2 linked regions of the Homo sapiens genome follow. The protein of the gene in region 2 interacts with the protein of the main gene of each other region in a pairwise test. Each region holds a gene or a part of one and is shown on either strand. Other genes may lie near its edges. The genes, in order: PIM2 and ZNF821.

What was found.
Region 1: the proteins of ZNF821 (region 2) and PIM2 interact in binary tests that used the Homo sapiens proteins (3 or more experiments, as listed by UniProt).

The regions. Positions count from the first base shown.
Region 1 is NC_000023.11:48,912,552-48,916,188, forward strand, and holds the end of PIM2 (serine/threonine-protein kinase pim-2), read right to left. Parts: intron 2,842-3,637; coding exon 2,469-2,841; intron 2,021-2,468; coding exon 1,844-2,020; intron 1,744-1,843; coding exon 1,580-1,743; 3' UTR 631-1,579; downstream 1-630. UniProt on the Homo sapiens protein: Proto-oncogene with serine/threonine kinase activity involved in cell survival and cell proliferation.
Region 2 is NC_000016.10:71,881,064-71,888,753, forward strand, and holds the start of ZNF821 (zinc finger protein 821), read right to left. Parts: upstream 3,120-7,690; 5' UTR 2,845-3,119; intron 2,479-2,844; exon of another isoform or gene 2,211-2,478; coding exon of another isoform or gene 2,148-2,210; intron 372-2,147; coding exon of another isoform or gene 254-371; intron 1-253. UniProt on the Homo sapiens protein: May be involved in transcriptional regulation.

The sequences.
Region 1 (3,637 bases), on a different chromosome or scaffold from region 2:
CAGGAGAACCGCTGGAACCCGGAAGGCGGAGTTTATACTGAACCGAGACAAATAAGCAGGGCAAGAGAGGGAACAACTCAGGTCGGAACAAGTGAAACCAACATGGAATAGGGTAGGCCAGGTAAGTCAAGTGTTGAAGGAGAAATTAGAGGGATGGGTATGTAAGGGTAAAGATGGGGGAAGAGGCTAAAGATAAAGAGCAAAACAGGTGACTACACCCTGGACAGATTCCAGTCAGCGCCCAACCCCAGCCCCGCCCTGGCCAGTACCCTGACAGGGCTTTTCTTCTGCAACAGGGGAAAGGGCTTCTTCATTCCCCTGGGGTGCCAGGGAAGGTAGTTTTTCTGCTTCTGAGATAGCCATCTTGATTGGGGATGTGCCCTAAACACCTTCAATATGCACAGTATCTCCAACAGAGAACCCTTCTGCACATACTGGGCACTGCATAAGATCAGGGGCAGGGGAATCAAGATTTTTTTGTGTGTGTGTGGTGCAGCTTCAAGAATCCTTAAAGCTCTTTAGGATGGCAACATAAGACTGTGGCTTCCTGAGGACAAAGCAGAGGGACAGTCTGTCTCAGTGCACAGTAGATGCTCCATAAAAGCCTCACACCTACAAATGGCCAGCCGCTTCTGATTCTATTACTTTTATTAAATAGTGGGTTTCCACACATGGCTTTTTAAATAATCCAGGCAGGAGAAGAGAGGAGGGCACACTTGGAACTCCCCTCCCCACAATACGTGATTATTTACATTTTAGTAATTGGACAATCCCGGCTCAGGAGGAGGTTGCAAGAATCTGCAAAAGTTGGAGGGAGCGCCCCAGGAGAACAAACAGCAAGCCTTATTTCCCCTAGCCCATCCCCCAAAAAACCATCCATCCCATCCTAGTGTCTGGTGGTGTCCGGTGGTGTCCATCTTCCATTCCTTCCCAAATTATGGAAGTAAGGTTCTTCTCACCAGAATAAGAGCACTTGGGATAACAGAGTAGGGTCCCCTCACCCAAAAAAAAAAAAAAAAAAAAGAAGCCTTGGGGTAACAACAGGGCATTACCTCCCCCAGAATAAAGAATCCTGGGCTGAGGCAGGTAAGCAGCTTGACCCAATATGGGACCCTAGGCTAGGGGAAAGGGTCCCTTTACTAAAATAAAAGCTACTGGGGTATTGGAAGGAAAGCACCCTTGCCCAAGTAAGAGCATATGAACTAAGTTTGTGTGGTGGTAGTAGGAGGTGCCAATGTGGGGTGACACATCATCAGAATAAGAGTCCCGGGGCTCAGAATGGGAACAACTTCACCAAAATAAACTTCCTTAGCAAAATGAGAAGCAAGAAGTTCCCCCTCCAGAATCAGGGACCACAGGTTCTGGGAGGAAGGCTCCTTTGTAGGATTGGGAAGGGAACTGGGCAGACTTGGTTTATGTCTTCTAACCCCTGATCCTCAATCCCTTACCTTAGTAATACTGGACTTTAATGACTGGTAATGACCTGTAAAACCAAGTCAACAAATGTCCATCTATCCCTGTGACATGGCCATGGGATGGCTCTTCTGACCATTGGGGGCCAGGCCAGGCCAGGCCAGGCTTAGGGTAGCAAGGACCAGGCCAAAGGGGCAGGGCCTCCTTTGGAGGGGTTGAGGGGTACATCCTCGGCTGGTGTTTGCATCCAGGGGTCCAGCAGGATCTCTTCCAGTGAGGGTCGGGAAGAAGGTTTGGGGGCCAGGCACCGGCGGATTAGGGCACAGCAGTCTGTAGGCCAAGAAGCAGAGAGGGAAGATTAGCAGTCAGTAGGGGGTACTGGTCCCTGAGAAGGATGGAGTCTTCTGGGCTGGGGTCAGTGAGGCCTCACCTGGGGAGACATGGGCTGGGAAGTGGAGCTCAGCTTCCAGAATCTCCTGGTCCCTCTCAAAGGGAATGTCCCCACACACCATGTCATAGAGGAGGATGCCCAGTGACCAGACAGTGGCCGGGAGTGCATGGTACTGGTGTCGAGAGATCCACTCTGGGGGGCTGTACACCCTTGTCCCTGCACACAAGCCAGGGGTTAGACCAACTCAATCTCATGATGCCCTTCTCCAACCCCAAACTCTCCAGGAAGGATGGCCTCACCACAATTAAGAGCACTCAAGATAAAAGCAGAGTCCCCTCACTAGATAAAAAGCAGCTAAAATAACAGAGTCCCCTCAACAGAATAAAAGCACTGAAAAGTAACAGGATCCCCTTACCAGAGAAAGAATACTCAGGATGGTAACAGGATCCCCTCACCAGAATAGGAGCCCAGAATAAGGTTAGCACACCATTAAAAGATGGACTTTATCAGAGGGCAAGGCTGAGAATCCCCAGTATTAGCAATCGATCATCTTATATAATGCAGTATGGGTCAAGGATTACAGGACACCCCACCACTGGAGGCCAAAGGTCACAAGGCCATCAAGTAAAAACAATCCCTCCAGGGAGATTTAGAGAAGCCTTACCATCAAAGTCAGTGTAGGGTTCATCATGAAGCAGGGCACCAGAACCAAAATCAATGAGTTTGGCACAGCCACGGCGTAGGTCTATCAGGATGTTCTCATCCTTGATGTCACGATGGACAACTCCACGGGAATGGCAGTGCTGGATGGCTGCCACTACTTGGCCAAAGAAGCAGCGGCTTGGGCCTTCACCCAGTGGGCCCTTCTCTGTGATATAGTCAAAGAGATCCTGGGCGGGCAAAGGCCGCTCGAGGACCAGCATGAAGCCCTCCTGTGTCTCAAACCAGTCAAGCAGGCGGATCACGCCAGGGTGCCCACCACCTGCACCCACTTTCCATAGCAGTGCGACTTCGAGTGGGCATGTGACTGAGTCTGACTGGGGGCACAGGTGGGGTGGGAAGCAGGGAGAGAAAAAAGACAGATGTCAGGGCAACAGCTCTGAGGCTTTTTACCTAAGCTCAACTCAGGGCCCCTTTTCCTGACAGTGTGTCGCTAAGCAACTCACTTCCCTTCCTGGGCCTCACTTTCCCTAAAGACACAAACTCACACAGCGATTGAGAGGGTGAAACCAGCAAAGAGCCTGCACAAATCTCGCATGTCGTAGATCAATAAACATTTGAATAAACGAAAGAAGTTCGGCCAGGCACAGTGGCTCATCCCTGCAATCCCAGCACTTTGGGAGGCTGATGTGGGTGGATTGCTTGAGCCCAAGAGTTCAAGATCAGCCTGGGCAAAATGGCACAAACACAAAAATTAGCCAGGCTTGGTGGCATGCACCTGTAGTCCCAGCTACTTGGGAGGCTCAGGTGGGAGGGTCGCTTGAGCCAAGAAGGCAGAGGTTGCAGTGAAGATCACACCACTGCACTCCAGCTGTCTCAAAACAAACAAGCAAAAATACAAAGAAAAATCTGGTTATCAACTGAAGGCTTTCAGCAGAAGCAGCACCACCATTATGTGTTTTGTTTTGTTCCCTGACATATCCCAGATTAGAATAGTACCTTACACAGGTGATCAATAAATGTTAAACAGATGACAGCACTTAATAGCATGGGCTCTGACAAGCAGTTAGCACTCAATAAACACTTATTGTGTAATGGTTTGTTTTGTTCACGGACGTATATGAAGCACTAGAACAGTGGCTGCTAACAGAGTAGGGCTGAATAAATATTTGT
Region 2 (7,690 bases):
CCTACCAAAGACAGGAATATGGATCTGGTCACACTCTTAAGTTTTCTTTCAGTTCCTGCCTTCTTGAGTTATACTCACATTGAATAAGCAAACATAAAATCATAGTTTATTGCCTTAAGAGGAGTTATGGGAGACTACTGCTAGCTATATTTTGTACTCCAGTTAATGAAGACTCACCTCCTGTTATGCCAACTAACTCCTCTATGTAGCTAGAAGGACCTCAAACCTATAATCAGATCCTGCCTCCCCTTACCAAAAGAATAAAGAAACCGCAAATGGCAAAGACAGGCCTCCACAGGAAGTGGCAAAGGAAGCAGCTTTCAGGCAGTCTTCTAGCATATCTGCATATCAAACACAGTTCTTTTTCAGACCTTTAATTAAAAACAAAACAAAACAAAACTCTAAATGTATACAATAAAAATCAATTTAAACTATTTAGAGGGCAATATACTGAGTGCTGATAGTGTATGTTCTCTAAGTTTTGTGTATGTCATTTTTTTCTAATCAAGTAGTTGTTTTATTCACGGAAGCAGTGAATGAATATCACACTTTGGATTTCCTATATGTGTGTGGAATCACCAAGTGGAAAGGTAATGAAATGCAGGCTCTATTAATATTTTTAAAAATATGGCCAGGCACCGTGGCTCACGCCTGTAATCCCAACACTTTGGGAGGCCAAGGCAGGCAGATCACTTGAGGCCAGGAGTTTGAGACCAGCCTGGCCAATATGGGGAAACCTCTAATAAAAATACAAAAATTAGCTGGGCATGGTGGTGCACACCTGTAAATTCCAGCTACTCGGGAAGCTGAGGCATGAGAATCGCTTGAACCTGGGGAGGGGAGGTTGCAGTGAGCTGGGATGGAGGCACTACACTGCAGCTTGGGCAACAGAGTGAGACTCCATCTCAAAAAAAGATAAAAAACTGCCATGGGCGGTGGCTCTCGCCTGTAATCCCAGCACTTTGGGAGGCTGAGGCGGGTGGATCACCTGAGGTCGGGAGTTTGAGAACAGCCTGGCCAACATGGTGAAACCCCGTCTGTACTAAAAATACAAAAACTAGCTGGGCGTGGTGATGCATGTCTGTAATCTCAGCTACTCAGGAGGTTGAGGCAGGGAATTGCTTGAACCCGGGAGGCGGAGGTTGCAGTGAGCCAAGAACGCACCACTGCACTCCAGCCTGGGCGACAGAACGAGACTCCGTCTCAAAAAAAAAAAAAAAAGATAAATAAAAATTTAAAAAAATAAAATATACTCCTCTAATGTGATAATCTATTGAGGCTAAATATATATATACTCTATTATAGAAGAAAAAACAGAATCTTGACTAATTTTTATATTTTCTCCCTTCAAGATCAGAAACTGAAACTGTAAGATAAAGGTAATAAAGTCCCTTCTGAAGGAAGGCCAAATAATTTGAACCAGACAACATTTCAATATTAAAGCTCCAAGTCAAAAGACAGAGATGAGTGTCTGCGTATTTAAATCAGCAATGCCCGCTGCATCTTATAATCCTCCTAGTGGCCAAATGGGGAACTGACCAGATGGTACCCAATGGGACTTCACACCTGAGTGATCAAGAGAAAAATAAGCAATTACAGTCCCCTCCCACACAACGAAACGAAAATAATAACAAAAACACCCACAAAAACAGGCCTGTGGGGTCATGGGCTGTTGAAAATCAATAAGTAAATAAATAAATGGCGCTGAAAGGACACTCTTGACCACAAAGCAAGATCTCAGAGGCCAGATGACTTGTTTTATAGGCAGTTAAAGCTAATAAAACCCAGAGACATACAGCCCTAAAGGTCACTCATTTTGTTTTACTTTTAACACTGCCTCAATTTCCAAGCCAAAACCTGAAACCAAACCAAACCAAAAATGTAAATAGATAGCTGCCTGAACATGGGCTGGGAAGACAGGTAAACGGTGAGATTCAGGTCTAAAGGGATTCCATTTTAAAAGGAAAGCAGTTCTGTCTGTCTTCAGAGCAAGGTTAAGAGTCCTCGGGAAGGTGCAACGTCTCCCCTGAACACTGTCTCTGCTCTCCCACAGGTATTAGGTTGCAGCGTCTAGGGCACACCACAGACTTTGGCAAGAAAAAAAACGAGTGAAATCTCAGCTTGATGAAAAGAGAGTGCGTTCCCACCTCCAGCTCTGGTGCAGTTCCCACGGAGCAAAGCAAACTCGACTGAATCCAAGTGATCTGTATCTGCCAAAAAGGAGAGGACAAGAAAGCTGGTCACTTAGCCGCCTGGCTGTTCACCTGACCCCTGGGGTTGGGTCTGGGGCGTGTCTAATCAGCCGAGATGGTCCCTCTGCTTCTTCAAGCATGAGCCCAGGTAAATTCCCAGGAATTACCAGACAAGAGCCTGACAAGAGCCGGAGGTCTTCCGAGGCGGCTCAGACAAACCCTTAGACAACACAATCTCCGAAATCTAAATTTAGAAGCTTTTCTGCGAGACCCAGACGCGGGGACTGATACCCCCCGGTCTGCACGCCCACGCCCATCCTCCCCTCCCCCAGCTCCACCCAAGGCTGTCAGACGCCGGGGCCGTCCCCGCCGGGGCCCGAGGAGGCGGGGTGCCCGCGGCCCGCGCAAAAGCCCCCCGGCCCCGCACCCCGCGCCCCGCGCCCGAGAGCGCCAAGGGGCAGCAGGAGGAGCGGCCGGGGAGGAATTGGGGTTGGAAGCGGGGAGGGTGAGCCCGGGCTGCCCCCCTAGGCCGGAGCTGGCCCCCGGCCCTCTCCCCAGTGCAGACAAAAGGACCAACAGCCGGCGGCCGCGAGGGGGCGAGGAGCCCGCATCCCCAGCCCGGACCCGGAGGGAGGGCAGGGGGTCTTTTTACCCGGCGCCTCGGCGCTGCGCTGCGCTCTGGGTCCCTGGGCCCCGCCTCCGGACAGACGGACCGCCGGACAATGGACCCGGGACCGCAGCCCAAGCCAGCCGGGCCGGGGCGCTCCGGGACTGGGCCCCGGCGAGCGGAAGGGGCTCCGGGCCGAGCCGAGCCGGTGGCGGGGAGCCGAGGGGCGGCGCTGCAGACGGACAAAGCCAACAGCAGACAGACAGACGGAGGGGGAAAAAGATGGCGACGCGGGCGGCGGGAGCGCGCGGCTCGCGCACCCGCAGCTAGTGAGGCGCGTGCACGAGCCTCCCTCTCCCCCTCCCCCGCGCCGGCCAGGTCCCCTTCCCCGCGGCCCGGCGCGCGCCTGGCGTTGTGGGCGGGGCCTGAGGAGAGGGGCTCTGGAGAGGAGGGGCTCCGGGGAGCGCCCAATCCCGGGCGCCCGAGAGGGGCTCGCCCGCGTTCCAGGGCTCCGGAACCCCCCGCCTCGCCCATTCCCGGGTCTTTCTCTGGCTGTCTCAGCCGCTCAGCTCCCCCAGACCTTCCTGGACGTGTAAACGCCACCCTACCCAGCCCCGATCCTGGTTTCTTACCCCACCATCGAGTTCAGCCACAAAACCCACAACCCCCAACCACAGCTCCGCCGCAGGCACCCCCTCTCCTTAGCCCGGATCCCCACCACCGTCACAAACCCTCTTCGCCTCATTCCCCCACGCTTCGCGGTGGCTTCGGCTCCCGAGGCTTTGAATGTGACCACGGGCCTTGGTGGGAGGGGCCAAGTTCAGCTGTCAGAACCTCAGAGCTGGGAAATCTTGAGATTTCTTTTGAGTATTTAATTTTCTGACATGATTCTCAACTGATAAAATAACATTGGCTGCAGACCCAGGGGCAGGGGAACTTGTGGCACTGTTGTCACTTGAGGGATGTTTGGGGGCAATGGAGAGCCGTTGGACCTTTTTTTTTTTTTTTTTTTTGAGACAGAGTCTCGCTCTGTCACCCAGGCTGCAATGCAATGGCGCGATCTTCGCTCACTGCAACCTGCGCCTCCCAGGTTCAAGCGATTCTCGTGCTTCAGCCTCCCGAGTAGCTGGGACTACAGGCGTGCACCACCACGCCCAGCTAATTTTTGTATTTTTAGTAGACGGGGTTTCACCATGTTGGCCAGGCTGGTCCCGAACTCCTGACCTCAGGTGATCCTCCCGCCTCGGCCTCTCAAAGTGCTGGGATTACAGGCGTAAGCCACTGTGCCCGGCCTGGTTGGACGCACTTCTAGTCAAACACCTCCTCCTGTCCACGTCCTTCTCTCTCCTAGTTCCTGTTGCCTTCTTTTCTTCCTCTCTTCTAGAATGCCTGAGCCTGCCCTGGCATCGCTTACCTGGAGAAGCAGGGAATGCAGAGGAAAGAAGATGAGATCTGGTATTAGAAGATCTGGCTTTGAGCCCCAGCTCTGCCACCCACCAGCCTGTTGACTTTGGGCAAGTCACTTCCCTGTTCTGAGCCTCTGCTTCCTAAGATGTCAAATGGATAATGATGCAATAATTCCTGGCCTTTACTCTCCGAGGGTTGTTGTGCCAGTTAAGTAAAACAAATGGCTAAAAGCATCATGCAAATGTTTTTCGTGATTACTGGCTGCACAAAGGCAGGGCTAACGAGGATGCTGTCATTTGCTGATAAAGTGACAAGTCCTGGTATTTGCATAGAACATTCTTGCAAATTGTCTTTCCCCTAAATCTTTTATGAGATGATCTCATTGTCTGCATCTTGTGTTCAATGTAATAGAATGATTACATTGAGGGATCTTGGTCCTTCACAATTCTGTGATAAATAGCTCATTCATCATTCACTCATTTATTTATTGTGATTAGGATACTTAGATAGCAATTATTGTTGTTTAACTTCAGTCAAGGAAACATTTTAATTTCATTTAAAAACTTAGTTTCCAAGTAGACAGAAAATGGAATATTATCATCCAACCCGCAAGTGTTTGTACTATTTTGTGTAAGAATACAACCTAGAATACACACTGGCTTTTATATTTAACAGTAATTCTTGATCAGTTTGGACTGAGGGATACAAGTATGGCTTTATTATGTCACTTTAAAGCTGACTTAGTTGACATTTTCAACAGAAAAGTAGCAAACAGGTAAAGTTTGCCTCCAGTGAAATTTCTTGGATGCATTATTATTATGTAATGTTGGGCAGCTTATTCCATCTCCTTGACTTCCAAATAAAATGAGATGATAATAATGCTATTCTTATGACTTCCCTGTGCTCTAAAAATTTCTCAGAGGTGTTGTGATTCAAGGTTACAACCAAATAATGAAAAAATTATTAAATACGTAATTAGTTTAAGTTAGGCATGGTGGCTGGCACCTATAGTCCCAGCTACTCAGGAGGCTGAGATGGTATGATGACTTGAGCCCAAGTGTTTGAGGCCAGCTTGGGCCACATAGTGAAACCCTTGTCTCTTTAAAAAAGAAGAATTAATTTATTTTTCCTCTGCTTTCACCTAAACTTGTTCTACATCTAGAAGACCTTTTAATTAACCATATATATTTTTTTAGCTTCACTTTTTTCTACTTTCCCAATCTACTCACAGTTATGTCATCATTTTGCCACTTCAACTATTTAACTTTCCACTTGAAATATCTTCCTAATCCATTTTATATTTGTTGGCTTCTACAATGACCTTGTTAGGGCTCTATATTCCAACAATAAAGGTAGGAGGATTTTAAGAACCTCATGTTACATTTTTTTAAATTAAGGTATAATTCACATACCATGAAACTCATGCTTTTAAAGTGTACAATTCAGTGGGTTTTGGTACATTCACAGGGTTGACAACATCACTAGTATCTAATTCCGGAATATTTTCATCACCCCAAAAAGAAATCCCATACCCAGTAGCAGTAACTCACCATTCTCCCTTCCTCCAGCTCCTGGCACCCACAAATCTACTTTCTGTCTGTGTGGATTTGCCTATTCTGGACATTTCATATAAATGTGATTGATTATACAGTATGGGACCTCTCGTGTCTGGCTTTTGTCACTTAATCTGGCTTTTGTCACTTAATAGGTTTTCAAGGTTCATTCATGTTGTAGCATATATCAGTACTTAATTCCTTTTTATGGCTGAATTATATTCTGTTGTATGGATATGCCACATTTTATTTATCCATTCATTAGTGGAACGATATTTGGCTTGGGCCTACTTTTTGGCTACTATGCATAATGCTACTATGAACATTTGTGTACAGTTTTTGTGTAAACATATGTCTTTACATTATGTATGGACATGGGTGCATACATATATCTAAGAGTGGAATTGCTTGGTCAAATGGTAACTCTATATTCAACCTTTTTTTTTTTTTTTTTTGAGACCGAGTCTTGCTCTGTCGCCCAGGCTGGAGTGCAGTGGCGCGATCTCGGCTCATTGCAAGCTCCACCTCCTGAGTTCACGCCATTCTCCTGCCTCAGCCTCCCAAGCAGCTGGGACTACAGGTGCCCGCCACCACGCCCGGCTAATTTTTTTTGTATTTTTAGTAGAGACGAGGTTTCACCGTGTTAGCCAGGATGGTCTTGATCTCCTGACCTCGTGATCCGCCCGCCTCGGCCTCCCAAAGTGCTGGGATTACAGGCGTGAGCCATCGCGCGCAGCCCTCTGTGTTCAACTTTTTGAGGAAGTGCTAAACTGTTTTCCTAAGTGGCTGCACCATTTTATATTCCTATCAGCAACATATGGTGTTTCCAATTTCTGCACAACCTGGTCAACATTTGTTATTGTTTGTCTTTGACATTAATGGCCACCCTAGTGGATATAAAGTCATATCTCATTGTGATTTTAATTTGCATTTCTCTAATGACTAAGGATGTTGAATATTTTTTCATGTGCTTATTATTGACCATTTGGAGAATGTCTATTCAAATCCTTTGCCTATTTTTAAATTGAGTTGTCTTTTTTTTTTTTTTTTTGGAATCAGGGTCTCACTCTGTTGCCCAGGCTGGAGTGCAGCACAGTGGTATGATCACAGCTCACTGCAGCATTGACCTCCCTGAGCTCAGGTGATCATCCCACCTCAGCCTCCCGAGTAGCTGGGACTACTGGCATGCCCTTACAGGCACACGCCACCACACCTGAATAATTTTTGTATTTTTTGTAGAGACGGGGTCTCACCATGTTGCTCAGGCTGGTCTGGAACACCTAGGCTCAAGCAATCTCCCCGCCTCAGCCTCCCAAAGTGCTGGGATTACAGGCATGAACCACTGCGCCTGGCCTAAAATTTATTTTTATTTATTTGGTATCCCAAATAAAAATAATATTTATTTTTATTTATTTGGTCACGGCACATAGTGTCCTTTGAAGCACAAAGTTTTTGATTTATATGAAGTCTAATTTATTTTTTCCTTCATTGCTTGTGGTTTGGATGCCATGTCTACGAAACTATCACCGCCTAGTCATGAAAATTTACACCTATGTTTTCTCTTAGGAGTTTTTTAGCTCCTACATTTAGGTCTTCACTCCATTTTGAGTTAGTTTTTGCATATGGTGTGAGGCCGGGGTGGGGGGCAATTTTATTCTTTTGCATGCAGTTATCCAGTTTTCTTAGCACCATTTGTTGTAAAGACTGTTCTTTCCCCCTTTGAATTGTCTTGGTATCCTTGTTGAGAATCAATTGGTTATAAATGCATGGGTTTATTTCTGGACTCTCAGTTCTATTCCATTGACCTATATGCCTATCCTTATGCCACTATCATACAGTCTTGATAAAAATCTGATATTTTAAAGGACAATGTTTAAACTTTTGTGTTTATATTTAGAATCTAGAGTTACAAGTTTTCATGGCTTTGAGTT